Linked DNA regions of Homo sapiens. The protein of the gene in region 1 purifies or fractionates together with the protein of each later gene. This does not show direct contact. Each region holds a gene or a part of one and is shown on either strand. Other genes may lie near its edges.

Region 1 (3,500 bases):
GGTGTACTTCGGAAGATGAGAATTTTGTTTTCATGAATTGGGTAACACCCAGGCATTGTTAGGTACCCCGACAGACCCTCTAGATATCCTTCTCTTCCTCCTTCACACTTTCTTCCTATCAAAATAGTTATTGTTTTGAAATTCACTAGAACAACGACGTTCTAAAAACAAAGGCGCAGCAAGCATCCCTTTCTTCGCTGCCGCGGGCTGAACCACGGACGCTCGCGGGTCGCCCAGCCCCGACGGCCCGCAGGGGGCGCGCGCCGCAGCCGCAGCACAGCCCGGCTACCCCCAGAAAGGGAGCCGAATGGAGGGAAGCAGGGAGCGCGGAGGGCTCGAGGCTTGCAGATAAGGAGAGGCGCATCCTGGGATTTGGGTCCTCTGCTGCTACAACACAACCGTGCTATTGTTGGCACTGTCCGACCCAAGTGTCGGTGGTAAGCGGCGATGTCGGGGCTGGGTCTCTAGCAACCGCTGTGCCCTGGGTCAGGCTGGTCGCCCCAGCTACCGGGATCCCTCTCCGGATGCTTCCAGGGCGATAGGTGCTGCACCCATTGACGGGATAGCCGCATACCTCCGAACAGGTAGTGGAGTTCGTCTCTGGCAGGCATCCTAGCTGCGCTGACACCAAGGTCGCCACACAATAGCCATCAGCCCCCCTTAAGCCCCAGAAGTAGGTTTCCCCTGCCCCAGCCATAGCGGTTCCAGTCGTCGCCACGAGCCCACTTCTTATCCCCAAGCGCACCTCCCTCTCCTCACCCGGGTTTATGCCCGTTACACAGAGAGAACTACACAGGGGGAACTATGGTCCTACACCCTCGAGGGGACAGACACCGGCCGTGAGACAGGCACCACGCAGAGCCTTCTGGTGACTGTCCGCAGGAGCGAGACCTTTTTTGGTTTTGCAGTCGGCTAGGTGTGTGTGTGTGAGGGTCCCCAGTTGACTACCGGGATGCACTGCCACTTTTCGGCCTGGCGGGCTCTGGGACTCCTTGGTCTCCGTAGGAGGCCATCCTAGGCCTTCGGAGGAGGCGCTCCCAGCTGGCGGCGCCCCTCGCCCCGGGCTCAGAGGCGGACACGGTCGGTCGCGCCCTGCTGGCCCTTTGTTCGCGCCGCAGCGGGCTGGGAGCAGCTGCGCGACACCAGACCCACAGCGCCAAGACGCGAAGCGCGAGGAAACCGCTGCGCTTGACTCCTTCTCCCCCAACTCTTGGACCCAGGAACGCTTCCAGCTCCTGCGTCCCACACGCCCAGTCCTGGCTTCTCTCCCGGCCCAGAAGTCTTCAAGGATTGAAGGGCTCTGCCTAGGGCCCCGCACTCCTGCCTGACTCCCATGGCCCAGAAAAGCAGGGGGACATTTGAAATGTCACCCCGGGATAAATATTAACAAAAAAGCAAATGGACTTGTGCAGGGGCCAGTTATCAATCAACCAGGCCGCAAGGCCACTCAGGGCAAACACAGCCCAGGTTGGGCTGGGCGAGACTTTCTCATGGCCGCCCCCCGACCGAACCCCTCCCCCCTTGGCTCAGGTCCTTCTTAGGTCGTTCTGGGGCAAACACCGGACGGGAAGGGGGCGCCGCCAACTCCCCCGCGGGGTTTGGAGGTTTCCTCGCCTCCAAGTCCCGCAGGGCAGGGTCGGAGTGCCCAACACCCACCCCCGCCCGAACCTCGGGCCTGCGCGCCGCCTTCCCCTGGGTCCGCGGTGCTGCGCTTGCTGTTGGGTGTGTGTCGCTGTCTCTTTCCGAGCCGGCAGCTCCTGCTGTGTGGCCGAAGCCCTCTGGAATCTTTAATTGGAAACTAATCTTGGTCTTGATAGACGCCCACGTCAGAGGCGCGCCACCCACCCACACCCCCCGCCTCATCCCGGAGGAGACGCGGCGAGAACCCTGTCGCTCTGCTCTTTAATGGGGCAGCAGCAAGTAGTACATGGAGGGAACATATATTGATTTTTAAAAGGTAGTTAATTTGGTGGGAATTTCCTCCTGTCGCCCTTCTTCCACCAGCCGCTGTTATTTCGTGACCGGAAGGCGCCTCCCCAAACACAGCGCCACGTGCAAGAGGGTTTTGACCCTCTGCAACAGGCTGCCGGCAACTGGAGGACAGAGGGGCGTGGAGAAGCCACCACTCTCCCGCTGCGGAGCGAAGGAACCGAGCTCAGTGAGCCCTGACCTCGCAAGGTGGTTGGAACGAGACTGGGGAGGGTCTCTGAGCGCAACAGCAAGGAAAGCTGCCAGGGGCACCTCCCCATATGGGAGCTGGTAGTGGGGGGCAGGCACTAATGTCCCGTAGGAACGGCCAAGGCGCTCTGCAATCCATTTTAAGGCTCATGCACTTGGCCCGTTAGAGATCATTTGGAAAGTTCAGAAAATAACCCCACTCTTTTTAAAATATGAAAATGTTAATGAGATGGCTCCTTCTTCAGTAACTTAAAAATAGGTTGTGAAGAGACTGTTCCTGGTTCCTTGCAGGAGACCCTCCTGGACCAACACAGAATCCTCAGTCCTAGCCCTTTCCACCATCCCTTTTAAGTTAAGGAAACAAAAATGTAATAGACATGCTTCCTCAGGGTCTCAGGACACAGAGTCGGCTTGGTGTTTGGTGCCAAATGCCTGCCCTGCTGGACTCTCCAGTGTTTCACTTTTTCGAGGAAAAGGCCATGGGCCTAGGGCCGAGGGCTGCATGGACCTCTACAGGTTGCTGGGTGCCCAGGCAGGCGCTCCTTCGATAGCCTCCTGGGTGCCACAAGCACCTGCCAGGCACCATGTTTGCGCCTCCAGCGTGCGGGTCCCAGCACTCAGGCTCCCTCCCCCTCCACAGTGCCGTCCCCTGAGCTCGGCTATGTAGCTCTCCACGCTTGGAGGTCAGAGGGCGCTCCTGCGGCCAGGTTTCCATGGCTCAGAGGTCGTCTCTGAACAGAACGTGTCAGTCTGTCCTTCCAGGGGGCGACAGCAGGCAGTGGGGGGAGGAGGGATATTGAAGTCCAGAGCAAGAGCCTCCAGGGGGCGGGGGTGGGGGATGGGGACCGAGTTTTCCCGGAGGGGTAGCCTTCTCCATTTCTATCTTCTTCCCACATTCCCCCGCTCCACTCTTTGGCTTCAGCGGGCACTGCCTGGGTAAGAGGCCCTGAAGCCTGGCTCTGGGGTGGTGTGGGTGTGTGAAAAGGCACTACCTTGGGCTCTGGAGAGACGGAGCAGTCAGGACGAGGAGCAGCCCCTTCGCCCACTCCCTCCGGAACCTCAGTTGCTCGCGGGCAGCCCACGGGTGGAGATATGGTGCCGGTAGCACAAGAGCTAGAGAGTGGAAAACCGGGGGCCAGCGATTCGCTGGGGCGCCCAGCGAGCCTCTTCTCCCCTGACTGGTTCCCGGGCGCAGGCTGCAGGAACCTGCATGAGGACTTTGCCTGGGGCGAACGAAGGCAGAGCTGGGCTGGAAAACCTGGCAGGGCAGAGTCTCAGCCAGCGCGGTGCTTTGGGACCGGTGGCCTGCAGCGCCCAAACCC
Region 2 (3,500 bases), on another chromosome or scaffold:
AGGTCCTGAGAGCAAAAGGAGGAGGCATTGCTTAGAGCAGTGGTCCCCAAATTTTTTGGCACCAGGGATCAGTTTTGTGGAAGACACTTTTTTCCACGGATGGGTTGGGGGGATGGTTTCAGGATGATTCAGGTACATTACATTTATTGTGCACTTTATTTCTATTATTATTACATTGTAATATATAATGAAATAATTATACAACTCACCATAATATAAAATCCATGGGAGCCCTGAGCTTGTTATCCTGCAACTATACAGTCCCACCTGGGGGTGATGGGAGACAGTGACAGATCATCAGGCCTTAGATTCTCATAAGGAACATGCAGCCTAGATCCCTCGCATGTGCAGTTCACAACAGGGTTCAAGCTCCTGTGAGGATCTAATGCTGCTGTTGATCTGACAGGAGGCAGCGCTCGGTGGTAATGCGAGTGATGGGGTGTGGCTGTAAATACAGAGGAAGCTTCACTCGCAGACCACTCACCTGCTCTGCAGCCGGGTTCCCAACAGGCCCAGTTCCTAACAGGCCGGTACTGGTCTGTGGCCTGGGGGTTGGGGACCCCTGGCTTAGAGGACATCATCAGTAGTACTTAGGAATAAGGGCTGAGATAGAACGTGGAGTTTAGCAAAAGATCTAAGTAGAAGCAAGTTTAGGTTGAGGAAATTGAGAGGTGAAATGTTGGTAGTTATTGTTATAAAGTGGCAGTGAAAGGAATACAGGATGGCAACTAGAGAGACAGGAGGATTAATGAAGATTTTTCTTTTCAGAGGAGGGGAGATATATATTTGTATGAAAGTCAAATGAGTAAAGATGTTGAAGACAATGGGTAGGCCCTAGGAAAAAGAAAGCAAACATGGGGTAGAGACTATGGATTATTGGGATATCCAAGGAAAGAAAAGAGGGATGCATGTCTTTTCCTTAAGAAAAGAAAGACGGAATGAAGAGTGGATACAGGAACATTTTGAAAAGCAGAAAGGAGAAGATCAAATGTTGGATGCCTTCAGTTAGTAAAGTAGGAACTCAGAACCAATGAGCTTCAAGGGATCTTAGAAACAACTTGGTTTAACTCAATTCATATATATTTGTATTTGTATATATTTATATATAATTTGGTATATATACAATTAAATTTTAAACAATAAATTTGTATTCAGTTGAATCTTCACTGAGTTTAATAATTCTGTATAGTTTTATAATAGTTACCTTTTGGTCATTTCCTATCACACTTCCCAAAAATGACAGTTCAGATGTGTTCCAGTCACGTTCAGTGTTGTGTGACTGTGTGTTAGGAATATCCCCATTTAATAGCTGAGAATAAGAAAAGCAATGGGAGTGATTTAGGCCTGGGGAGTGCCAGAGGTCCAGGATGTAGGGAATTAGAGAGTCAGTGAAGCCAAGATTGAAGTGGATGACCACAGATTCAGGTCGGCAGGGAAGTGGGCTGGTGAAGATCTAATGGGTTGAGTGGGAATGAGTATTGAAACAGAAAGAGCTAAGACATGACTTATGTAGAGACCAAGGGAGAACTTCCCCTCTGCCCTCTGAAGACTTGCCAGAAAAAACTGACAACAGGTAGATTAATCGGAGAAATGGCATACAAGTTTATTAACGTGTGGGGTGGGAGGAGGGAGACAGAGTGATTACCTGAACCCCAAGAGGCTCAGAAGCTTATATACCATCTTGAGGCAAAGGTGGTCCTGTCATGTAGATGAAACCTCATAGGGAGGAGCCCTCAGAGAGAATAGATGGTGAATATTTCTTTCAGACCTTTAAAAGTGTCAGACTCTCAGTTAGTCTTTCCTAGATCCAGACAAGAGAGAACCTTCAGAGAAGGCCAGGTTGCATCAATGCAGATTTTCTCTACAGACACAAATCTACCTCACAAAAGACAGCTTTGCAGGGCTGTTTGTTTGCAGGCCCTCTGAACAGCCATCTCAAAATATGTCAAAGAAGTATAATTTGGGGTGAAATATTCTGATTTCCTTCACTTGCTAGACCCTGAAGTGGGAGAAAAGAGGGTGCACATTGAGGCTGTGGCCAGTCAAGGGGAGCACACGTGGAATAGTGTGCTTTCAGGTAAGATCCCTGTGTGTTTGTGCATGGGGCTGCTACTTAGGGATTTTGGTTTGTGAAGTTGAGGAGAAAACAATCCAGAGATCAGTTAACGTCTCTCCTCCATTTGAGATGTGTGCAGCTTCTTTCATAAATACATTATTATTTTCAAATAAACTTTTAATTTTGGAACAACTTTGATTTATGTAACCACCCCACAGGTTCTTCTTTCTTGCTGCCCAGATAGAACTGGTTTATCAACACGGGAGAATTGCAATAGAGAAAAAGAGTTTAATGCACACAGAGCCGGCTAAACAGGCGGCCAGGGTTTTATTATTACTCACATTAACCTCCCTAAAAATTTGGAGGCTAGACTTTTTAAAAGATAGTTTGGTGTGCAGGGGGTTAGAGAATGGGTGCTGCTGATTGGTTGGGGAGGCAATTGCAGGGGTATGGAAAATGGTCCTTGTATGCTGAGTCCATTTCTGGATGGGGGGGCCACAGGAGTTGCTGGTTTGGGAGGAGTTATCCAGTCATCAGAAATATAAAAATCTGAAAGTGGTCTATCTTTTAAAAGGCCAATCTTAGCTTCTTTAATAGTGATATTATGTGTAGAAGTAATTGGAGAAGTTGCAAATCTTGTGATCTCCAGACCAGTGGCTGGTAATTGTTTACATGTAATCACAACAAAATTCAGTCCCCTCTCATAATCCTAAACTTGTGACCTTTTATTAGTTTTATAAAGGCAGTTTAGTTTAGGGAAGAGCTGTTATCATTTAACCTGTAAACTAAATTCTTCCAAAGTTAGCTTGGTTCTCACTTGGGAATGACCATGGGCAGCTTGAAGGTTAAAGGCAAGATAGAGTTGGTTAGGTCAGATTTTTTTTCACTGTTATGATTTTCTCACTGTTACAGTTTTTGTAAAGGTGGTTGGTTTTATTTACAGAAGCATTACAAAGATTTCTATGTACTTTTCACCGACTTTCCCGTAAGGTTTGTATCTTGCATAACCGTGGTACATCGGTCAAAACTTAAGAAATTAACATAGCTATAATATCATTTTAGACTGTAGATACTATTCAGAAATTCACTGGTTGTTCCACTATCCATTTACTGCCCTGGGATACAATCCGAGATTCAACACTGCATTTAGTCTAGTTTATTTTGTTATTGTAAAAGCCTTATTGTGTTTTTGTAAATTACTTCTTCATTTTGGTACACTTCACTACAGGTTGTGCTGATGTCACCTGTAAGTGTAATGAACATTTTCTATAGTTTTTCATCTAGATCTAGGCCATTAATAAAATACTAATGTTTAGATCTAGATTTCTGGACTACCATTTGGGCTGATACTCCCTAATTGTTGATAAATTATCAGTCAGTATTACCACCTAAATAATTTTCCATGATTCAGCTTTTATCATGCACAGCATATTCATTTCATTTA

The links. The genes of interacting proteins can lie anywhere in the genome.
Region 2: the proteins of ONECUT1 (region 1) and CDS1 purify together in Homo sapiens (affinity purification with mass spectrometry; one large-scale study listed by BioGRID and IntAct). This does not show direct contact.

What each region holds. Positions count from the first base shown.
Region 1 is NC_000015.10:52,783,837-52,787,336, forward strand, and holds part of ONECUT1 (hepatocyte nuclear factor 6), read right to left. Parts: intron 1-3,500. UniProt on the Homo sapiens protein: Transcriptional activator. Binds the consensus sequence 5'-DHWATTGAYTWWD-3' on a variety of gene promoters such as those of HNF3B and TTR. Important for liver genes transcription.
Region 2 is NC_000004.12:84,586,127-84,589,626, forward strand, and holds part of CDS1 (phosphatidate cytidylyltransferase 1), read left to right. Parts: intron 1-3,500. UniProt on the Homo sapiens protein: Catalyzes the conversion of phosphatidic acid (PA) to CDP-diacylglycerol (CDP-DAG), an essential intermediate in the synthesis of phosphatidylglycerol, cardiolipin and phosphatidylinositol.